Homo sapiens: one gene and its partners. The protein of the gene in region 4 interacts with the protein of the main gene of each other region in a pairwise test. Each region holds a gene or a part of one and is shown on either strand. Other genes may lie near its edges.

The links.
Region 1: the proteins of CEP44 (region 4) and FXR2 interact in binary tests that used the Homo sapiens proteins (3 or more experiments, as listed by UniProt).
Region 2: the proteins of CEP44 (region 4) and ING5 interact in binary tests that used the Homo sapiens proteins (3 or more experiments, as listed by UniProt).
Region 3: the proteins of CEP44 (region 4) and ZNF250 interact in a two-hybrid assay, tested with the Homo sapiens proteins (one large-scale study listed by BioGRID and IntAct).

Annotation. Positions count from the first base shown.
Region 1 is NC_000017.11:7,589,913-7,595,760, reverse strand, and holds the end of FXR2 (RNA-binding protein FXR2), read left to right. Parts: intron 1-1,003; coding exon 1,004-1,082; intron 1,083-1,413; coding exon 1,414-1,523; intron 1,524-1,756; coding exon 1,757-1,843; intron 1,844-2,135; coding exon 2,136-2,358; intron 2,359-2,579; coding exon 2,580-2,777; intron 2,778-2,866; coding exon 2,867-3,067; intron 3,068-3,161; coding exon 3,162-3,257; intron 3,258-3,406; coding exon 3,407-3,507; intron 3,508-3,603; coding exon of another isoform or gene 3,604-3,639; exon of another isoform or gene 3,640-3,695; intron 3,696-3,835; coding exon 3,836-3,931; 3' UTR 3,932-4,531; downstream 4,532-5,848. UniProt on the Homo sapiens protein: mRNA-binding protein that acts as a regulator of mRNAs translation and/or stability, and which is required for adult hippocampal neurogenesis. Specifically binds to AU-rich elements (AREs) in the 3'-UTR of target mRNAs.
Region 2 is NC_000002.12:241,705,039-241,710,886, forward strand, and holds part of ING5 (inhibitor of growth protein 5), read left to right. Parts: intron 1-4,177; coding exon 4,178-4,344; intron 4,345-5,848. UniProt on the Homo sapiens protein: Component of the HBO1 complex, which specifically mediates acetylation of histone H3 at 'Lys-14' (H3K14ac) and, to a lower extent, acetylation of histone H4. Component of the MOZ/MORF complex which has a histone H3 acetyltransferase activity.
Region 3 is NC_000008.11:144,886,557-144,892,404, reverse strand, and holds part of ZNF250 (zinc finger protein 250), read left to right. Parts: intron 1-2,001; 5' UTR 2,002-2,055; coding exon 2,056-2,097; intron 2,098-2,330; coding exon of another isoform or gene 2,331-2,345; coding exon 2,346-2,472; intron 2,473-2,710; coding exon 2,711-2,824; intron 2,825-5,502; coding exon 5,503-5,565; intron 5,566-5,848. UniProt on the Homo sapiens protein: May be involved in transcriptional regulation.
Region 4 is NC_000004.12:174,285,391-174,291,238, forward strand, and holds part of CEP44 (centrosomal protein of 44 kDa), read left to right. Parts: intron 1-5,848. UniProt on the Homo sapiens protein: Centriole-enriched microtubule-binding protein involved in centriole biogenesis. In collaboration with CEP295 and POC1B, is required for the centriole-to-centrosome conversion by ensuring the formation of bona fide centriole wall.

The DNA of each region.
Region 1 (5,848 bases), on a different chromosome or scaffold from region 4:
AAAATAAGCCTCAAACTGGGCACAGTGGCTCACACCTGTAATCCCAGCACCTTCGGAGGTCAAAGTGAGAGGATCACTTGAGCCTAGGAGTTTGAGACCAGCCTGTGCAACATAGTGAGACCCAATCTCTACAAAAATTTAAAAATTAGCTGGAAGTAGTGGTGCGTACCTGTAGTCGCAGGTACTTGGGAGGCTGAAATGGGAAGATAGAGGGGAGGATCACTTGAGCCTGGGAGTTGGAGAACAACCTGGACAACATAGAGAGACCCTGTCTTTACCCCCCAAAAAAACCAAAAACCAAAAAACGTTAACTGAGCGTGGTGGCATGCATCTGTGGCCCCAGCTACTTGGCTACTTGGGAGGCGGAGGCAGGAGGATCACTTGAGCCTGGAAAGTCAAGGCTGCAGTACACCATGATGGTGCCACTGAACCAACCTGGGCAACATAGTCAATAGAGTGAGACCAAAAAATCAAAAAAATAGACCAGATCTCTGTTGCCCAAGCTGGTTGTTAACTCCTAGCCTCAAGCAATCCTCCCTTCTTAGCCTCCGAAACTGTTGAGATTATGGGTGTGAGCCGCTGTGCCTGGCCAAGGTCCTCTGTTTTTTTTTTTAAGTTATTTATTTGTTTAATTTTTTTTTTTTATGAGATGGAGTCTAACTCACTCTGTTGCCCGGGCTAGAGTGCAGTGGCACAATCTCAGCTTATTGCAACCTCTGCCTCCTGGGTTCAAGAAATCTCCTGCCTCAGCCTCCGGAGTAGCTGGGATTAGAGACGTGAGCCACCAATTTTGTATTTTTAGTATTTTAGTATTTTTGTATTTTGATTTTTGTATTTTTAGTAGAGATGGCGTTTCACCATATTGCCCAGGCTAGTCTTGAACTCTTGAGCTCAATTTATCCACCTGCCTCCAGCCTCCCAAAGTGCTGGGATTACAGGCGTGAGCCACCACATCCAGCTGGTCTTCTGTTTTAGTAACAACTCCCTGCTGTTCTTCCTTTAGACTCCCGAGGCTTGCCGACAGGCCCGAAGCTACCTTGAGTTTTCTGAGGACTCAGTGCAAGTGCCCAGGAACCTGGTTGGTGAGTTGGTGGTGTGTATATACAGTTAGAGGTCAGAATCAAGATTCTCTACAGTGATTCTGAGCTTTTATCCAGGATTGGCACCTCCCTGTGGACTCCCAGTTTCACAAGGACAGAGAAACAGTCTGTAATGGGAGTGATAAAAATGAAAGAATAAATTTCTAGGGATTGTAACATTTTGTCCTGTAAAAACACATCAGAAACCTAGAAGCAGGAGAATGAAGTAAATGGAATCCATATAAAGAAAATGAGGCTGGAAGACGGTGTATCAGCTTTATTCTTATTTCCTTAAAAAAAATAAAAGGCTGAATTCCTCATTTACCTATTCCAGGCAAAGTGATTGGAAAGAACGGGAAAGTGATCCAGGAGATTGTGGATAAATCTGGTGTGGTGAGGGTTCGAGTGGAAGGTGATAATGACAAGAAGAACCCCAGGGAGGAGGTATGGGTACGGGGCAAGTGGGCATAGAGATTGGTTTCCAGAAGTAAATGGGATTGTCCTCTGAGGGCTGGGATTGTTCTTTGAGAGGGTGGAGTACGGAAAGTTGTTTAACACTAGTAGATTTAGAGCCCAGAATGATCCCACTGGGCAGGCTCCCCTAGGAGACTGGGCGGCGTTAATCCTTCCATTTCATTTTCCTTTCTGATCCATCGTTTCTGCTCTCTGTTCTCTAGGGAATGGTTCCCTTCATTTTTGTTGGCACCCGAGAGAACATCAGCAATGCCCAGGCTTTGCTGGAGTATCACCTCTCCTACCTGCAGGTACCCAGGCCGGGAGAGAAAAATGCTGGGTGTGAAAAGGGAACTAAGACTGCTGTGGGGGTCAGCTCAGGGATTTTGGTTCTCTGTTTGTCTCTCCGTGTAGAACAGAAAACATCTGTGGAAATTTGGGGCTATAGGGTTGGGTCCCAGAATTTTCCTTGTTTAGCCAGTGTCTTCCTTCTCCCTGCATTCCTGAGAGGTTAGATATAGAGGGACAGTCAGGGTGCAGAAGCATGAAGCAAGGCACTGATCTTATTTCTCCTTCCCCTTCTTCCATCTTTTACCCAACCAGGAGGTAGAGCAGCTTCGCTTGGAGAGGCTACAAATTGATGAGCAGCTTCGGCAGATTGGGCTGGGCTTTCGCCCTCCTGGGAGTGGGCGGGGCAGCGGTGGCAGCGACAAGGCTGGATATAGCACTGATGAGAGCTCCTCCTCCTCCCTCCATGCGACTCGAACCTATGGGGGCAGCTATGGGGGCCGTGGCCGTGGCCGGAGGACAGGCGGTCCTGCCTATGGTGAGACAGTTATGGGAACAGGAGGCAAGGAGTGGCAGGGCTTGTGGGTAGAGGCAGAGGTCTGGATGGAAGTTTGGGGAAATCTGGAATGGAGATGATGAAAAAGTGATTGATTGGCTGGGAGGCTTGTGAGTGAGAAGGAGAATTCTTCCAGTTTGGGGGATGTGATGGATCCTGAGGTGGGATGAATGGCCGTGAATAAATCCCATTGTGTTCTTCAGGCCCCAGCTCAGATGTGTCTACAGCTTCAGAGACTGAGTCAGAGAAGAGAGAGGAGCCCAACCGAGCTGGGCCTGGCGACAGGGATCCCCCAACCCGAGGGGAAGAAAGCCGGAGGCGGCCGACTGGGGGCCGGGGTAGGGGACCCCCACCTGCCCCCCGGCCCACTTCGAGATACAATTCTTCATCTATTAGCTCAGGTACCAGACAGCTGGGTTCATGAATATGGGCCAAAAGGAAAGATGATGGGCACCTGACTGCCAACTCCTCCTCTTCTTCCTCTGACCAGTGCTGAAGGATCCAGACAGTAATCCCTACAGCCTATTGGACACGTCTGAACCAGAGCCCCCGGTTGATTCAGAACCTGGGGAACCCCCCCCAGCAAGTGCCAGGCGCCGCCGCTCCCGCCGCCGCCGCACTGATGAAGACAGGACCGTCATGGATGGAGGCCTGGAATCAGATGGGCCCAACATGACAGAGAATGGCCTGGGTGAGGGTGTGCCTGGGGTCTGGAAAGTTAGAGATGGGTAGGAATCGAGGGTGGGAGGTTGGATGTGTGACTCTGGTTTTTTCCTACCCTACAGAAGATGAATCAAGACCTCAACGTCGTAATCGCAGCCGCCGCCGCCGTAACCGTGGTAATCGGACTGATGGCTCTATCAGTGGAGACCGCCAGCCAGGTCAGCCAACTCTGGACACCAGAATCCTTCCTCAGAGCTGAGAGAATGGGATGCTCACCCCTGTGAAAATCAGGGGTTCGGGTTCAGTGGGTGTCTTAGGCTGGCTACCAGAATTCCATCTGAAAGTCTTAATCTCCTGCCTTCCCCAGTGACTGTGGCTGACTATATCTCACGAGCAGAGTCTCAGAGCCGCCAGAGGCCACCCCTGGAACGCACTAAACCCTCAGAAGACTCTCTTTCAGGACAGAAGGTAGGCAGGCAAGATGTGCTTTACCCCATCCCTTTTTTGTTGTTACTCTGGGGCAGGGGGCACAAAAAATTTCACAAATCTCCTACTGAATTGCAGAGGCAGCTGTGTCTGATGGAGTTTAGACCAGTGTAAACTTTGAATAGGATAGAGAAGAAAGTGTGGTTCACATTTTCTGGATCCCAAGTAAGAGAGACTGGATCATGAGATCAGGGAACCAACCTCTGGATCACCAAATGCCAGGAGGGCTTGGATGGTAGGGAATGTCTCCCACCTGAATTTCTACTCACCGCTTCTTGCTTTTCTGTTTTCTTTCCCACTTTCCCCTCAGGGTGACTCTGTCAGCAAGCTTCCTAAGGGCCCCTCGGAGAATGGGGAGCTCTCCGCCCCCTTGGAGTTGGGTAGTATGGTGAATGGGGTTTCATAAAACCTCCAACCTGCACCCCTCCCTTCTCCATCTCGCTTGCTGCCCAACACCATGGCCCTCACAGGCCCAACTGACCTGCGCTGGAGCTGCTCTTATCTAGGGGGGAGGGGGGTGGCACAGCAGCTTGGGTACCCCCCAACCTCCAGGAGCTAGTGGAGGGGTGTGTAACAGGGTCATACCCCCTCCCTCTTGTCCACCCTACCCCCAGGGTAAGGGGAGCCTCTCTCCTTCCCCATCAGACTGGATGTGCCTTTATCCTCTAATGCCCCAATCTCTCTCTGAACACCCCCATTCTCCACCTGTTGGTGGGGGGTGCTCCTCGACCCACCCAGATTTGACCGTTCAGGGGGCCTCCCCTGCTATCCCTCCTCCCATCCTGTACCCCCCATTTCTGGGGCCTCATCACTGTGGAAGACGGGGATAGTAAGAGATAAGTGGGTGGGAGGCACGGGGAAGGTTTTGGAGTAGAACCAGGGGTGTGTATGAAGGGGGGTGACAAGGTCCCCCTGGGGAGGGGACCAACCTTGTCTGGTGGATGAGAAGGCGTATTTATTTTTCACTGTACAGTATTTAAAAAGAGAATAAAAAAATCCAAATGGCTGTCTGGCTCCTGTGCCTTCTTTGTCCCCAGTTTGGTCCATTTGTTTCTCTAGGACTGACCTGCCCTGGCCCCTGGCTCTTGTTTTCTGTTCCTCCACATCTGACTTCTCTTCATTGTCTCTTGTCCCAAAGATGGTCTTACTTCTGGGAATTCCTGACATTCCTAAACTCCCCAGGCCCAGGTTCTCCCTCCTGGTTCAGAGGAGGGGGGCTTGTGCCTTGTTGCTTCTCCCCTCCCCCAAGTTTGCTGGTAGAGGGAGTTGGGCCACTCCTATACCCTGAGTCACAGCACAGGCTAGGCAGGGCTGCTCAGAGCTGGAGCTGTTCCTGTAGAAGCTGAGAGCCAAGGCAGGCTGCTTAATCCGATTACCTGAGGCCTGGGGCTTGGGCTGGGCCGTTGGGCAGAGTGGGGAGCAGGGTTCCCTCACAGCAGCCTCTGGAGCCCGGGGTCCGGCCTTCTTGGTGGTGTTCTGTTCTGGCTCCAGGCTTTTTCTCCGGCATGCGCATCACAGACCTCTTAACTTGGGGAGTTGTCCTGGGTTTCCTGGCTCCCCCCTCATGACTTGGACGACTGAAGCTAAAACTTGCCATAATTCAATAGCAGTGGAGAAATATAGGTTTAGGGACTGGAGTTGGGAGGGCTTAAGTTTTCTCACTTGGGAAAGGGGTTGAATCACGGCCCAAGCACCTGCTGGAATGACTCAGGAAACAAAAATGGTCTCCCTCCTCGGCCTTTCTTGCCCCAGGGGCAGTTCTGGGATTTGAGGAGCAACAGGCACCAGGAAAGGGGTTGGGGTGGTGGTCCGGGATGCTCCCAAGCTCCTCTCAGCACAACTCGGGCCCTGAGGGCACTTCATCCCCCTGTGTTTGATCCCATTGTGGAAAGAATTGGCTTTAAATTGCCTGTGCTTCAGGGAGGGGAGGCAATCAGCAACGGGCTGGAAGGCCTGACATCAGGTCTTGGGTGGGGGGGGCGGGGGGCGTGGCACCCTGAGGGTGTTGGGGGCTGGGACAAACAGGACACCTGGGTTTACCTACGGGCTGAGGATGTTGGCGCCCTTAAGGAGGTGCAGTCTTATGGGAGGGACAGGGGCGGAGTCAGTCTTTAAAAGCTGTTCCCAGGTCTGGCCCGCCTGCCACAAACGCTGAGCCCAGGTGGGAGAGGTCTGGCCTATCCGCGCCTGGCAGCTGTCGGAACTCCGGAGACCACAAAGGGGTTTATGGTTTACCCCCTCCACGGAAGGTCGGTCTGATCGCAGCTGCGGGTCGGGGAGAGGGACCGGGGGTCCCCCAGTCAGTAGGCCTCAGAACACCTCT
Region 2 (5,848 bases), on a different chromosome or scaffold from region 4:
AAGTTTGGTAGTACTTTTTGGCCGTTTGATATTTAACTCCGTTTCTTTTTTTTTGAGACGGAGTCTTGCTTTGTCGCCCAGTCCGGAGTGCAGTGACGTGATCTCAGCTCACTGCAAGCTCTGCCTCCTGGGTTCACACCATTCTCTTGCCTCAGCCTCCTGAGTAGCTGGGACTACAGGTGCCCGCCACCACGCCTGGCTAATTTTTTTTTTGTATTTTTAGTAGAGACGGGGTTTCACCGTGTTAGCCAGGATGGTCTTGATCTCCTCACCTCATGATCTGCCCGCCTCAGCCTCCCAAAGTGCTGGGATTACAAGCGTGAGCCACCTCGCCTGGCCCTAACTCTGTTTTTTTCTTTTTTTTTTTTTTTTTTTTTGAGACAGAGTCTCACTCTGTTGCCCAGGCTAGAGTGCAGTGGCACGATCTTGGCTCACTGCAACCTCCACCTCCCGGGTTCAAGTGATTCTCCTGCCTCAGCCTCCCGAGTAGCTGGGACTACAGTCACATGCCACCACACCCAGCTAATTTTTTGTATTTTTAGTAGAGACAGGGTTTCACCATGTTCACCATGTTAGCCAGGATGGTCTTGATCTACTGACCTCATGATCCGCCTGCCTAGGCCTCCCAAAGTGCTGGGATTACAGGCATGAGCCACCGCGCCCGGCCCTTAAACTCCCTGTTTCTAAACAACATGTTTTTGTTGCTGTTTCTTATTTTATCTCTCGTCAGTTTTAGACGTTGTTCAGACGTATATGGCACAGGCAGCTGTACTTCTCCAGTGGCCCCCACACCCTCACATGCCCTCACCTGGCTCCCCCATCTCCTGGCTGTAGGTTGTTAGAATTTGTGGTGAGACCAGTGATGGGACTTCCATTGGGCAGCTGTGTAGGTACTTTAACACTGAGCCATGCCACCTGCTGTGCTTATATGACCTCTTTGGAATAACTTTGTGTATTTCTTAGAGTTACTCATGGCCCTGTTTGTTGGCTTTGTTTTCTGCATTCGACCCTTGTCTCCCCAGCTGGGCTTTTCCTTGTGGTCTGTCAGGCTGTCTACCCTGACAGTTCTGTGTGTGCTTTCTTTCCGCAGAGCCCTCTGTCCTGGAGGCCACAGTCCTGATTGTTTCCATGCCAACTGCACACTTGTTGCCCTGAGGTTTTCCTGGGATCTCCTTTCACCCCTCTTCAGTGTGGGACCCTCTTCCCTGAATCTTAAATGTCTTCTTTTTGCCCTTGCTCTCCTGTTTTGATAGAGCCTTTCCTTTGGTAGGTTCCTGAAAAAAAGGCACATAGGAAGGTAGATTTTCTTGGCCAGGCACGGTGGCTCATGCCTGTAATCCCAGCACTTTGGGAGGCTGAGGTGGGCAGATCACCTGAGGTCAGGAGTTCGAGACCAGCCTGATCGACATGGAGAAACCCCGTCTCTACTAAAAATACAAAATTAGCCGGGTGTGGTGGCGCACGCCTATAATCCCAGCTAATTGGGAGGCTGAGGCAGGAGAATCACTTGAACCTGGAGGCGGAGGTTGCACCTGGAGATCGCACCATTGCACTCCACCCTGGGCAACAAGAGCGAAACTCCATCTCAAAAAAAAAAAAAAAAAAGAAAAAAAGGAAGGTAGATTTTCTTGTAACATTGCATGTCTGAAAATGTGTTTGTTCTAGCCTCATACTCAGCTGATAGTTTGGTTGGGTATAGAATCCTAGGTTGACAATTGTTTTCACTCAGGAAGTTGGCGACATTGCTGCCTTGTCTCCTAGCTTCCACGTTGCTGCAGAAAATCTGGTGCCGTTTGGATTCTTGGTCCTTTATATGTGTGATCTATTTTTTTTTTGTTATTCCTATTCAGAAGCTTTTGAGATGTTTCCTTTATCTCTGAAGTTTTAAATTTCATGATAATGTGTTTTGGTGTGGCAATTTTTTTTTTTTTTTTTTTTGAGATGGAGTTTCACTCTTGTTGCCCAGGCTGGCGTGCGATGGCGCGATCTTGGCTCAACACAACCTCTGCCTCCCAGGTTCAAGTGATTCTCCTGCCTCAGCCTCCCGAGTAGCTGGGATTACAGGCATGCACCATCATGCCCAGCTAATTTTGTATTTTTAATAGAGATGGGGTTTCTCCATGTTGATCAGGTTGGTCTCAAACTCTCAACCTCAGGTGATCTGCCCGCCTTGGCCTCCCAAAGTGCTGGTATTACAGGTGTGAGCCACTGTGCCTGGCCTGAGATTTTTTATTCATTATGCTGGGCACAGGTTTGTTTTTTTTGTTTTGAGATGGAGTTTCGCTCTTGTTGTCCAGGCTGGAGTGCAATGGCACGATCTCAGCTCACCGCAACCTCCGCCTCCCGGGTTCAAGCAATTCTCCTGCCTCAGCCTCCCGAGTAGCTGGGATTACAGGCATGCGCCACCACACCCTGCTAATTTTTTGTATTTTAAGTAGAGACGGGGTTTCTCCATGTTGGTCAGGCTGGTCTTGAACTCCTGACCTCAGGTTCATCCACCCGCCTTGGCCTCCCAAAGTGCTGGGATTACAGACGTGAGTACCACACCCGGCCTGGGCACATGTTTTGCAAGACTGAGATAGCTGTGTTTTTTTCCTTAGGTACAGCATCTTGACTAGGGAATACAGAGAGTTATTTTATTGTGAAATGTAACATATATTCAGGAAATGAATGTGCAACAATTATAGATTGCTTAACAAATATTACCAGGTGAACCTCTCTGTTGTCTGCTACCGAGATGGAGAAATCAAGCCCTTTGGCACCTGAAGGCCTTTGTGACCCTCCTAGTCATGACACCCCTCCCCAACCAAGGGGTGACCATCCTGAGTTTGGTGACAGTCACCTTCCACCTTTAACAGTAGTTTTCTTTTTTTTTTCTGAGACGGAGTCTCGCTTTACCATCAGGCTGGAGTGCAGTGGCACGGTCTCGGCTCACTGCAACCTCTGCCTCCTGGGTGCAAGTGATTCTCCTGCCTCAGCCTCCTGAGTAGCTGGGACCATAGGCACGTAACACCATGCCCAGCTAATTGTTGTATTTTTAGAAGAGACGGGGTTTCACCACATTGGCCAGGATGGTTTCCATCTCTTAACCTCGTGATCCTCCTGCCTTGGCCTCCCAAAGTGCTGGGATCACAGGCGTGAGCCGCCGTGCATGGCCTTCAACAGTTTTCTTTTGTTTTTTTTTTTTGAGATGGAGTCTCACTCTTTCGCCCAGGCCGGACTGCAGTGGCGCTATCTTGGCTTTCTTCAAGCCCCGCCTCCTGGGTTCACGCCATTCTCCTGCCTCAGCCTCCCGAGTAGCTGGGACTATAGGCACCCGCCACCACGCCCGGCTAATTTTTTGTATTTTTAGTAGAGACGGGGTTTCATCAAGTTAGCCAGGATGGTCTCGATCTCCTGACCTCGTGATCTGCCCGCCTCGGCCTCCAAAAGTGCTGGGATTACAGGCGTGAGCCACCACGCCTGGCCTAGTTTTCTTACCCCTCTAAACTGAAGGGTTAAGAGTTGTGTCTGTTTCTGCTCTTCATATTAATGGAATCATCCAGTATGTTTTCTTTTGTTTCTTGCTCTTTTTGCTCCGTGTCACCTTCTCTGGGAATCATCCGTGTTGCTGTGTGTGGCTGTAGTTTGCTCTTTTTGTTGCTGAGTAGCACTCTGTTGTCTGAAGGGACCACAGCTTATTTCTCCATTTTACTGAGGATTGGACATTGGGGTTGTTTTCTGTTTTCTGCTCTTATGAATGTTTCCCGTGTGGATTTCTTTAGGTGACATAAGGTTTGTTTAGGGTATTTAAGAGTAGTGTGTTCTTTCTTGACTGCTCTACCGGAAAAAAAGAAAAGGGAAAAAAGAGTAGTATGCCAGGTCATAGGAAAGGTGGCTACAAGTTATTCATACAGGATGTTTGAGAGTCGAAGAAGGCACTGTGACCACTTGCTGTGTAACATTCAGAGCTGGGACTGTCCTGGGCACGTTGCCGTAAAGTCTGCACATTCACACGATCCCAGACTGTTTGTGCAGAACGGTTCTGCCCACTTGCGCTCCCACCAGCACAGCGTGAGTTCATGTCAGCCTACATCTTTGCCACAACTTGGCGTTGGCTGACTTTAGTTGTTGCCAGTCTGGTGAGCACATCATGGTGTCTTGTGCAGGGCTAGCTTTTCCCCCATTTCTCCATCAGATAAGAAAGCAGAGATTGACATCCTGGCTGCAGAGTACATCTCCACGGTGAAGACGCTGTCTCCAGACCAGCGCGTGGAGCGCCTGCAGAAGATCCAGAACGCCTACAGCAAGTGCAAGGAATACAGTGACGACAAAGTGCAGCTGGCCATGCAGACCTACGAGATGGTGAGGGCGGGGCGGGGGCCATGGCTCTTCCTCTGACCTCTACTCCTGCCTCTCATGCAACAAAATGTAAAAACTGCCCGGAAATGGGCATAGCCAAGTGGAAGGCTGGCTTTGGTAGCTGACGCTGCTGGAGGAAGTGCAGACGGAATACACTTCATGTAGGACCATCCCTGTTTTTTTTTTTTTTTTTTCTGGGCCCTTTTTGTTTGTGTATCTGCTCGGAGGAACCATTTGGGTTTTTTTTGAGACAGTCTCACTTTGTCGTCCACGGTGGAGTACAGTGGTGTGATTTCAGCTCAGTGCAACCTCCGCCTCCTAGGCTCAAGTGATTCTTGTGCCTTAGCCTCCCTAGTAGCTGTGATTACAGGCATGCAGCACCACACCCAGCTAATTTTTATATTTTTAGAAGAGACGGGGTTTCACCCTGTTGGCCATGCTGGTCTCGAACTCCTGACTTCAAGTGATCCACTCGCCTCAGCCTCCCAAAATACTGAGATTACAGGCATGAGCCACCGTGCCCGACCTCCAGGTGGCCATATTTTATTTTATTTATTTATTTTATTTATTTATTTATTTTTGAGACAGAGTCTTGCTCTGTCGCCCAGGCTGGAGTGCAGTGGTGTGATCACGGCTCACTGCAACCTCCACCTCCTGGGTTTAAGCGATTCTCCTGCCTCAGTCTCCCGAGTAGCTGAGATTACAGGCATGCAGTAGCCATACTTTATTATTATTATTATTTTTGAGATGGACTTTTGCTCTTGTTGCCCAGGCTGGAGTGCAATGGTGCTATCTCGGCTCACTGCAACCTGTGCCTCGCAGGTTCAAGCAATTCTCCTGCCTCAGCCTCCTGAGTAGCTAGGATTACAGTCACCCACCACGAAGCCTGGCTAATTTTTGTAGTTTTATTTTTTTATTTTTGTATTATTTATTTAGTTTTTGAGACAGGGCCTCACTGTGTCGCCCAGACTAGGGTGCAGTGGCATGGCTGCAGTTCAGTGCAACCTCCACTTCCCAGGCTCAAGCGATTCTCCTGCCTCAGCCTCCTAAGTAGCTGGGATTACAGGTGTGCACCACTACCAACAGGCTAATTTTTGTTTTTGGTTTTTGGTTTTTTTTTTTGAGACAGAGCTTCGCTCTTGTTGCTCAGGCTGGAGTGCAATGCCACGATCTTGGCTCACTGCAACCTCTGCCTCCTGGGTTCAAGCGATTCTCCGGCTTCAGCCTCCTGAGTAGCTGGGATTACAGGCATGCGCCACCAAGCCCGGCTAATTTTGTATTTTTGGTAGAGATGGGGTTGCTCCATGTTGGTCAGGCTGGTCCTGAACTCCCGACCTCAGGTGATTGACCTGCCTCAGCCTCCCAAAGTGCTGGGATTACAGGTATGAGCCACCGTGCCTGGCCTGTATTTTTAATAGAGATGGGGTTTTGCCATGTTGGCCAGGCTGGTCTTGAATTCCTGACCTCAAATGATCCACCTGCCTCGGTCTCCCAGAGTGCTGGGACT
Region 3 (5,848 bases), on a different chromosome or scaffold from region 4:
GTTGGTTTAATTGCAGCGGCTTCCTACCCACCCTTGGCTCTGATTCCTGGCAAGGCAGTCCCCACCCTCTGTTCTTTCCAGTTAAATTCTTGGCTATTCTCTAGCATCCATTCTTCTTATGAATTCTCAAGTAGTTGTAGTCATTCCTTTAAAAGACTTCTGTTGGAATTCTAATTAGAGTTGCATTGCGCTAACACAGAAGTGTGCTCACACACACATTTGGAGGGAATGGGCATTTTTGGAGAACAGCAGCACGGGGGAGGGTTGAAAGTCAGTCTCTCTCCAACTGTGTTTCCCTGTCCTGTTCTTCAGAGGCAGGCAGTTAGTTTATTGTGTATCTTCCTGAAAGTTGTCTGTGCAAATATATACATGTATCTGATGTGTGTTTTTTTTGTTTTGTTTTGAGACAGAGTCTCAGCTGAGATGATCTCAGCTCACTGCAACCTCCACATCCTGGGTTCAAGTGATTCTCCTGCCTTAGCCTCCTGAGTAGTTGGGATTACAGGCACCCGCCACCACACCCAGCTGATTTTTGTTTTTGTTTTTGTTTTGAGATGGAGTTTTGCTCTTGGTTGCCCAGGCTGGAGTGCAATGGCATGATCTCGGCTCATCGCATCCTCCACCTCCTGAGTTCAAGCAATTCTCTTGCCTCAGCCTCCTGAGTAGCTGGGACTACAGGCGTGCACCACCACACCCGGCTAATTTTGTGTTTTTAGTAGAGACGGGGTTTCCCCATGTTGGTCATGGCTGGTCTCGAACTCCCAACCTCGGGTGATCCGCCTGCCTCGGCCTCCCAAAGTGCTGGGATTACAGGCATAAGCCACTGCACCCGGCCTGATTTTTGTATTTTTAGTAGAGACGGGGTTTCACCATGTTGGCCAGGCTGGTCTCAAACTCCTGACCTCCGGTGATGTGCCTGCCTCACCCTCCCAAAGTGCTGAGATTACAGGTATGAGCCACCGCGCCCACCTATATCTGATGTTTTATAGACACTGAGATTATGATGTCCCTTGACTTCTGCCCCCAGCCCTGACACCTATTTTGTCACTCTTAAAGCACCCTGTTTGTTGTGGTGCCCATCTGAGCCAAGCATGTGAGGGGATTGGTTGCTTTGTTATACCACGTTTTTCTGGAGTGATCTACCACCTTTGGTCACCTGGTTGGTTTCTGTATCCCTGTCACAGTATCTTCTTTTTGATGCTCCAGAAGACTGCGAACCCTATCCTGTACAGGACCAAATGTGTCAGGAAAGCTCTTGCCCCGCTCCCCCTTTTTCCCAGCTGTTTGGGTGTGTGTCAGATACCTTTGCTTACCTTGTCCTGTTACGTTCCAGCACCAGCCCCACTACCCCAAGCATCCCCTTCTCACTTGATGACAAGTCTTCCTTCAGCTGCTCAGACCAGATCCCTAGGCCACTGTTGACTCAGTTTGTCCAGAACTGACCACTTCCATGCCTCCCCTTCAAATACCTGGTTGAACCTGGTGCCACATTGGGGCACTAGGGCTGCCTAAGGGTGGGGTGAGGGGAGTCTTATTGTCACCCTGGTGGCCAAGGCTTTCTTAATTGGGAGGGTGTTTGGGGAAGCAGCTTGGCCTGATGCCTGTATCCCCCACATGACTTGCGGACAGTCTGGTACTTGTGTGAGGGCCTCAGGTATAGAACACACAGAGCCTTGGTGAGCTGGTATCCTTGTGTATGGCAGGACCATGGGCCGGGACCAGGGTGCAGCAAGTGCCTTGCACCTGGTGTTCAGAGAGCCCAGTACTAGCTGGGCAGGCCCAGGAACTGTGTGTTCAGGGCCTGGACAGGCTCCTGAACCATAGGGTCAGAGTTCATGGGGGAGGCAAGGCAGACCAAGGCTGCAACAGTAGCAGCTCCTTGCACCTGACCTCAGTGTGCCCCTCAGTGACTCTGAATGAGGCCCAGGGATCCCCTGAGGGCCCCCTAGGAAGTTACGGTCTCAAGGCCATGCCCCTCACTTGCCCCCTCCTCTTCCTCAGCCCCATAGGCTCCTTCAATTTCCGTGATCCTCGGAGTCCCCAGGAGACCAGGTGATGGCAGCAGCCAGACTCCTGCCAGTGCCGGCAGGACCCCAGGTAAGCTGTCCCCAGTGCTTATGCAGTGCCCCCAGCCCGAGCCCTGTGGTTCCTTCCGTGCCCCGTAGAGCTCCTAAGAGCAGCCAGAGCGTCACCACATGCCCTGAACTCCGCGGCCCCTTCCCATCACCCACCTCAGCTCACAGAGCCCCCCACTGCCAACTGCTCATGTCACATGTCACATGCACCCACTCCCCATCACAGACATCAGGATTTGGTTTTACCTGCAGCAGCCCCTGTCGTTCCAGGCCAAGCTGACCTTCGAGGATGTGGCTGTGCTCCTCTCCCAGGATGAATGGGACCGCCTGTGCCCTGCTCAGAGGGGTCTCTACAGAAATGTGATGATGGAAACCTATGGGAATGTAGTCTCATTGGGTAAGCCACCTTAGCAGGCCTCGTCTATGTATCTGCGTATTGGACTGGGGTGGGGGCTTCTCAGGGTACGGGGCCTGGGACAGGCTGGTCCTGGAGGTTTGCTCTCATCACCTCTCTGGGTGCTCAGCTCCAGCAGAAGATCAGTCCTGTCCATTTTCATGTCCCCACAAGTGGCTTGGGCAGGGGGAGGGGGCTCTGTAAATGTTGTGTAAACAAAGACTTCCCTCCCCACGAGCAGGACTTCCAGGATCCAAGCCTGACATAATCTCCCAGCTGGAGCGAGGGGAAGATCCCTGGGTCCTGGACAGGAAGGGGGCTAAGAAGAGCCAGGGCCTGTGGAGTGACTACTCAGGTGAGTGAGGAGAGCTGGCCCCTCCCTCACTGAGGGCTAAACAGGTCCTGAGCAAAGCTGTGGACCTAGTTCATACTGTGCCGCTCACTGGAGTGGCTTCCACCTGGAGTAAAACCTTATCTGGCCTTATCTGGCAAAGGAGTCTATAGACTGGGGGTTGCTGAATCAGGTGGCAGCCCATGGCTGGAAGTGAGCATAGCAGTGAATTTCAACAAGCTGATGTGCAGAGCCATGTAGAGGAAGTTAGGGCATGGCTGCAGTGATTCTGTCCCTGACCAGAGGGACTGGTTAGCCAGATTTGGTCCTAATAGGACATTCAGGTTTTGAGAGTTACCTGATGATTTAGAAAATAACAAAGCATCCTAAATGTGGAAAGGAAGTGTCTCAACCTGACACTTAAGGTGAAGTGCTGAAAGCACACTGTTTCATCTCAGAACAAGACAAAGAAGCCCGCCATCCCCATGTCCATATAATGTTGTACTGGGTATCCCATGTACAAAATAAGGCAAAACCGGCCAGGCGTGGTGGCTCAAGCCTGTAATACCAGCACTTTGGGAGACTGAGGCGGGTGGATCACGAGGTCAGGAGATCAAGACCATCCTGGCTAACACGGTGAAACCCTGTCTCTACTAAAAATACAAAAAATTAGCCGGGCATGGTGGCATGCACCTGTAGTCCCAGCTACTCGGGAGGCTGAGGCCTGTAGTCCCAGCTACTCCCAGATTCATGGCGTGAACCCGGGAGGCAGAGGTTGCAGTGAGCTGAGATCGCTCCACTGCACTCCAGCCTGGGGGACAGAGCATGAGACTCTGTCTCAAAAAAATAAAAATAAAAATAAGGCAAAACCAAAGCTATAAGAATTAGAAAGAAAAAAGCATTGTTTGCAGTTTATGTGATTGTCAACCTGGAAAATGATTGATTAAAATTCACAAGGGAAATTACCAGTTTTGCTGGATACAATTTTTTTTTTTTTTTTTTTTTTTTTGAGACAGTCTTGCTCTGTCGCCCAGGCTGGAATGCAGTGGCATGAGTCTCGGGTCACTGCAAGCTCCGCCGTCTGGGTTCAAGCAATTCTTACGCCTCAGCTTCTCGAATAGCTGGGATTACAGGTCCATGCCCCTATACCCAGCTAATTTTTGTATTTTTAGTAGAGACAGGATTTCACCATGTTGGCCAGGCTAGTCTCGAACTCCTGACCTGAAGTGATCCACCTGCCTCAGCCTCCCAAAGTGCTGGTATTACAGGCATGAGCCACTGCACCTGGCCAGAAATGTTTTATTTATATTTGTCAGCAACCAGCAAAGGTGTAATATTTTAAAAGATAACATTTATAATAGCATCAGGAATATAAAGCATCCAAGAATTAATCTAACAAAAGATGTACAAGACCTTTAGATGGAGAAAATTATAAAAAGAAAGATGGTGCATAGATCCAACCCTGAAGTTCATGTTTGCGGTTGCTTAAGGCAAAGAACCTCTGACTTCAGTAAGGTGACGTCTGAGTCTTAGGAAAACCTCAGTCAGCCTGTCCTGCCATAATGTGCCCCACTTGGGGAGAGTAGGGACAGTTTGGGCAACACCTCCATTGGCTGATCAGCTTCAGCATTTCAGATGTGGTGGTTTTCCCCTTGAAAGCTCCTCCTTATTTCTAAAGTAGCTTTATGTGGATAGGGCACCAGGTATTACAGTCTACCTCTTACTGGCCTGCAAAATCAGATATCCTCAGAGGAACAAGGTACATGCCAGCCTTAGAGGAATTTAATTTTCCAGTGACTATACAAGAAGACACATCATCATGTCTTGGAAATCTTGCATAGAACTTCTGCTTACTGACTGCAGCTGTAGGAGACAAGAAAACACAGGAGGGCATTTTGCTGCCACTGCCAAACCAGTCCTGGGCTCCCTTGTGTCCAGCTATGTACTCGCCTGATGGAGAGCTTAAACTGCCTTTGAGCGCCCTTTGATTTGACACCACAGAGACTGTGAAATTCTCTGGGAGCATGGCTGGTTGGAGATGAGAAGTTTTTTCATGGAAGCACCTGGTCCCCTCACCTCTAACACAGGCCACAGAGGACGATGGGACTGAGTTTTAGATTACTGATGTGCATAGAAACAGAAGCCACCTGCCACAACCTGGATCACTGCCACTAGCATCAGAGCAAGCGAGGAGTAGATATGCCTTTGTCTTGTCCTGGCAGTTCCTCAGGATGGATAAGTGTGTGCACCTGCCCAGCCCTGACCCTGCTGTTTGTAACTCAGTAAATTACATGTTGTAATAGCAACGAAAGGATTTTCCACTCTTTTTTTTTTTTTTTTTTTTTTTTTTTTGAGAGACGGAGTTTCACTCTGTCCCCCAGGCTGGAGTGCAGTAGTGTGATCTCGGCTCACTGCAACTTCTTGTCTCCGGGGTTCAAGCGATTCTCCTGCCTCAGCTTCCCTAGTAGTGGGGACTACAGGCATGCACCACCATGTCCAGCTAATTTTTGTATTTTTTAGTAGAGACGGGGTTTCACTATATGTTGGCCAGGCTGGTCTCAAACTTCTGACCTCAAGTGATCCACTCACCTTGGCCTCCCAAAGTGCTGGGATTACAGACGTGAGCCACCATGCCCGGCCAGGATTTTCCACTCTTGAAGGGAGTATTTTGTTGTCACTTCAACTCGCTGTTTTTTTTCCAGACAACCTCAAATATGACCACACTACAGCCTGTACACAACAAGACAGTTTATCTTGTCCATGGGGTAAGTGTATGCCTGATCTTTTTAATTCAGTACAATCTCTGAAGGTGTTAACACTAATGTTTTACAAGAATGTAGAGGCGACTCGGTGCTATGAAGCGTGTTAAACAACTCACACAATTGCTACAAAACACCAGGGAGGGGCTTTTTGTGTTTTTAATTTTTAAAACATTTTTCCTTTTCTTGTGAGCCATAGTAGGCCTAGAGAGATTACTGGGTTTTTATAATTAAACATTTATTTCGGTGAAATCATTTTGTTTCCTTTTATTTGTTCCGTCATGCTTAA
Region 4 (5,848 bases):
TCCCTTTATTTTTCTGTCTCCTATCACTTACCTCGTTCACGAGCTCTGCTTGTATTACTCTTCAAAATATTTATTCACTGGTACTGAAGAGAGACATAACTTTGTTGTCAGAAATTCCATTATCAGAGGTAGAAATCATGTAAGAGACACTGAAATGTTTTCCAAAATGTCAGAAAAAGGAAAGGTGAGAAGATATCATAAAGTGTTACGTAAAACAGAATTACTTGCACTGGGAAAATGGAATATACATCTGGAAGGACTAAAGGAAGTCTGGAAAGACATAGAATTTACATTAAAGTTACTGGGAAGAAGGTATCCCTAGAAGAATTGTGTTACGATAGATGGGTCTGGAACCCGAAAGAAGCTCAGACCTACTATATTGGCCAGTGGCAAAATCCAAGAATACATTTTTTGCGGTTAAAGCCAGAGTAGTCCTCACTTCATGTTTTTCAGGAAAGTAAAGGCTTATCTTGGGAAATCCCTTTTAGGCTTCCGTGTGTCCATCTACCCCCAGTCAGTCTAAAGGATATTAAATAGGGTTTACCTTCTTGGCCAGTGTTTTGTATAATGTGATTTCAGGATGACTTTCTCTTTTTCTAGTTATCTCCCATTTGACAGTACCTAAAATTATCTCTGTCTAGAAATGTAAATGTTTAGTTGAAGTAATTTATTGGCTGAAAAATAGTGACTAAAATGTGCATGCACAAGTCTATAAAGTATATTCAATAAGCTGTTGCCTACCATGTTGATAAAGGAGACTAGGAACAGAAAGGTAGGTTCATAAAGAGGGAGCAGTTGCTCTACCCTGGGGAAATGGCTGTGGAAATGAGTGGCGAGGGGCTTAAAGTAGGAAGCTTACTAAATTTAGGATTTTGTAAATCGGTGACCTTCTTACCTTTCCTTATTTAAAGATAGAGAAACGGTGTGTAAAGGGATGATTTGTATCCTGGACAGCTGGGTAATGCGAATTGGAGGAAAAGATCACACTAACCCAGCTTCACCTGATTTATGAATTGTTCTGTTTTCATTTTAATATAATGACTTCATTTTAATGTGATAACTTCATTTTAAAGGAGCTTCATTCTCAAAGGGTTCATTACTCAAGGTATTGTTATGTATTACTTTTCTTCTATGAAGTGTCCATGGACAGTTGTGGTAGATGTTTTTATGTAAGTTATTGAGTTTCACGTTACTGGCTGACTAGACTTTTATAGTTCAGAAACTTACCTCCTTCCAGCAAAGGTTCTTAATCGTTTATATACCTATTTATGACTCTTCTTTGGGAAAAATCTCCTTTGATAATCTAATGAAAGTCCCACTCCATGCAAGAAAATTAGTCATTTAGAAATAAATTCCATGCTATTACTTTTGGGGCAGTTTTTAAAAAATGAATCATTTTGTTTAAAGTCTCAGTTCGTTCAAATCTTTTGGTTCACGTATGTGTTTTTCTGTTGTGTACATTCTTCAGAGTCATATTCCTGTTTCATAGGCCCCATGTATGTCAGCTTTTAGTAGGTATCACCAGTAAGTTTTCCAAAATAATTGTACCATTTACTCTTTCTGTAAAAAGCATAGATATTTTGAATTTCTTGCCTTTTTTTCTGTGTTCACCTTTTCTTCTTGGAAGTAGACAGCTGGCTAACCAGCAGGAGTTTGGGACCGATGACAGTGCAAAACATCTTGACTGACAATGGTGGTGGCTTATTAAAGTGAAGAATCAGCATCAAGAGGGGGAATCGGTGTATTCCTTCTATTTCTAGGCCATTGGGATATAGGTCGTTATGGGACCCCAGGTAGTAACCCAGCTCATTCTGAAATAGAGCTGAGAAATGACAAGGATTAAGTGTTGCTTTTCAGGTAGAGTGCTATTTTGGACCCTTGGCACAGATTTTGGTTCTTTATTATGATAAGTACCAAGAAGGAAAAGAACTGGGTCTATTAGAGAAAATTAATGAGGGGGATTAATTAGTTTGGGATCTAAGACTTATTTGAGGTGGTGACATTTAAGCAGGATGCCGAGGGGTATTAGCCAGATGGAGAATGGGAGAGGGAAGGAGTTGCTCTGTATCTCTTCAAGCTTGAAGAAATGGCATGTGCAAAGGTGTTGAACAGCTTGAGATATCACCAAACATCCTTATCCAGGTCCAGGAACTTTATCCCAGATACCATTTCTGTTATTTGTTGCTTTCTATAATATTTTAAATTAACTAAATCACACACATTCTCTTTTTCATCATTACTTGGTAAGTGGAATGTTTTGATTTTCCCTTCTGGTTATGATTTACATGTATTAACTTATTAATACACGAAGATCAAAAAGTGACCAAAATTGTTCAAAAGGTACAATTTATTATAGGATAATTATAATTATTTCATGCTGACAATATGTTTATAAGTGTTTTGCAGTAACCTTTTTGTTTCTATAATTTCATGGTAAGAAAGAAAATGAATTAGGTAGAGCTAGTAATACCAGGTATAGACAAGAATGTAGTATTTAAAGCTAATATCTGAAATTCTCTTCTTGCATCTGCTAACTGAACGAGAAAATTCTGTGTGTGAGAATGGAAAACTTTGGGTGAAAAGTGAAAACTTGGATTTTGTAGTCCAGGCCCTTAATTAAGTAGATAACACACTCAGAAGGAGAAAATTTGGGGTGCTTTATATACAAAGGGACTATTTTTAGAGGTGTGTGTACAGGGATCTGGTGCTGCTTCATTTTTTAACCTGTTTATTGCGGTATGATTGACATACAGAAAGCTATAGACATTTAATGTATACAGTTTCTGTTTGGAGATAAGTAGATATTGTGAAACCATCCAACCATTATTACTACAAGAAATCAATGCCATCACCTTGAAAAGTTTCCTTCTACTCATCTTTTTTTCACGTTTTGTGATAAGAGCACTTAACATTAGATCTAACTTCTTAGCAAAATTTTAAGAATACAATATTGCTAATCACAGACACTGGGTTGTACCTGCAGATCTTATTTATTTTGCCTAACTGAAACTTTGTACCCTTTGAACAACAGCTTCCCATTTTGTTCTCCCCATGTTCCCTTACAACCACCATTCTATTCTCTGCTTGCATGTATTTGACTATTTTAGATTTCACATACATTGAGATAATACAGTATTTGTCTTTTTGTGTTTAGCTTATTTCACTTAGCATAATGTCCTTCAGGTTCATCCATGTTGTTGCAAATGGCAGGATTTCCTTCTTTTTTAAAGGCAAATTTGTTTATTCTCACATTTTTGTTGGGGTCCCTAAGGTTTTCTACATCTAAGATCATGTCATCTGCAAACAGATATTGTACCTCTTCTCTTTTTATTTGGATGTTTTTAATTTATTTTTCTTACCTAGTTATTCTGGCTAGGACTTAAAATACTACGCTGAATAGGAGAGGCTAAAGTAGGCAACCTTGCCTTGTTCCTCATCTTATGGGGAAAGCTTTCAGTTTTTTATCTTTAAGTATCTTAGCTGTGGGCTTCTCATAAATGGACTTTATTTTGTTTTTCCTTTACCTAATTTGCTATAAGGTTCTTCCATACCTAGTTTATTGGGAGTTTTTATCACAAAAGAGTATCGAATTTTGTCAAGTGCTTTTTCTGCATCTGTGCAGATGCCCATGTGAGTTTTATCCTTCATTCTATTAATGCAGTATATTACATTGGTTGGTTGTCATATGTTGAACCATCCTTGCATCACAATGAAAAATCCTACTTGGTCATGGTATATGATTCTTTTAATGTGCTGTTGTGTTTGGTTTGCTAACATTTCATTGAGGATTTTTACGTCTATATTCATCAAATGTATTAGACTGTAGTTTTCTTGTAGTGTATTTGTCTGGCTTTGGTATCAGGGTGATGCAGGCCTCAGAATGACTTTGGAAGTGTTCCCTCTTCTTTTTTTTTTTTTTTTAGATATGTTTAATAAGGTTTTGTATTAATTTTTCTTTAAATGTTTGCTAGAATGTATCTGGCTCTTGGCTTTTCTTTGTTGGGAATTTTTTGATTATTCCATCAATCTCCTTTTTTGTTATTTGTCTATTCAAGCATTCTATTTCTTCTTGATTCAGTCTTGGTAAGTTATATTTTTCTAGGAATTTACCCATTTTTTTTTAGATTGTCCAATTTGATGGCATATAATTGTTCATAATAGTCCCTTATGATACTTTTTATATCTGTGGGATCAATTGTGTCCTCTTTCATTTCTGATTTTGTTTGAGTCTTCTATTTTTAAAGTCTAGCCAAGGATTTGTTGATTTAGTTTGTCTTTTCAAAAGAGGAACTTTTAGTTTTGTCAATTTTTAAAATTGTTTTTCAATTTTCTATTTCATTTATTTCTAATCTAATCTTTATTATTTTCTTCCTTCTGCTAATTTTGGATTTAGTTTGTTCTTTTTCTAGTTCCTTGAGGTGTAAAGTTAGGTTGTTTTATTGAGACCTTTTTTTTTTTTTCTTTGAGACAGAGTCTTGCTCTGTCACCAGGCTGGAGTGCAGTGGCGTGATGATCTTGGCTTACTGCAACCTCCGCCTCCCGGGTTCAAGTGATTCTCCTGCCTCAGCCTCCCGAGTAGGTGGGAGTCCCAAGTAGGTGGGACTAGAGCCACGCACCACCATGCTCAGCTAATTTTTGTATTTTTTGTAGAGATGGGGTTTCACCATGTTAGCCAGGATGGTCTCAATCTCTTGACCTAGTGACCCGCCTGCCTCAGCCCCCAAAAGTGCTAGGATTATAGGCGTGAGCCACTGTGTCCTGCCTCTTTCTTCTTCTTAATGAATTTATTGCTATAAACACTTCTCTTATTCTGCTTTTACTGCATCCTATATGTTTGGGTATACTGTGTTTTTATTATTGTTTGTCTTGAGATATTTTATAATTTCTGTTTTGATTTATTCTTTGACCCAGTATTATTTAATAGTATGTTATTTAATTCCCCTGTATTTGTGAATTTTTCCATTTTCTTTCTATTATTGATTTCTAGTTTCATTCCCTCGTGATCAGACAAAATGTTTAGAATGTTTTTAGTCTTCTTAAATTTGTTAAGACTTGTTTTGTGACCTAGGCTGTGATCAGTTATAGAGAATGTTTCATGTCCTTTTGAGAAGAATGATTATTTTGCTATGGTTGGGTCTCATGTTCTGTATATGCATGTTAGGTCTTTGGTCTATAGTGTTGTATAGTTTGCAATTTACTTGTTGGTATTCTGTCCGGATGACCAGTACATTATAGACAGTGACGTATCAAAGTCTCCTTCTGTATTGTATTGATATCTATTTCTTCCTCCAATTCTATCAATATTTGCTGTTGGCATTCTGTCTGGATGACCTGTACATTATAGAGAGTGATGTATCAAAGTCTCCTTCTATATTGTATCGATATCTATTTCTTCCTTCAAATCTGTCAATGTTCACTGTATATTTTAAGGTGCTTTGATGTTGGGTGCATATGTATTTTTAGTTGTTGTATCTTTCTATTGAATTGACCCTTTTACTATTATATAATGCCTTCTTTGTCTCTTTTGACAGTTGTCGACTTAAAGTCTATTTTGTCTGATATAGATAGCCACCCTGCTCTCTTTTGGTTATAGTTTGCATGGAATATCTTTCTCAATCCCTTCACTTTTAGCCTACGTGTGTCCTTAAATGTTAGAGTCTCTTGTAGATAGCGTATAGTTGAGTGTTGTTTTTATTATCCATTTCAGCCATTCCATGTCTACTGAGAGCCCTTAATTATTAAAAATTTAAAGTAATAATTTTTAATAATTAAGTACTTAATTGTTTCCATTTTATTCATTGTTTTCTATTTGCTTTCTGTTTCTCCTGTTTTTCTCTTGTTTGTTGTC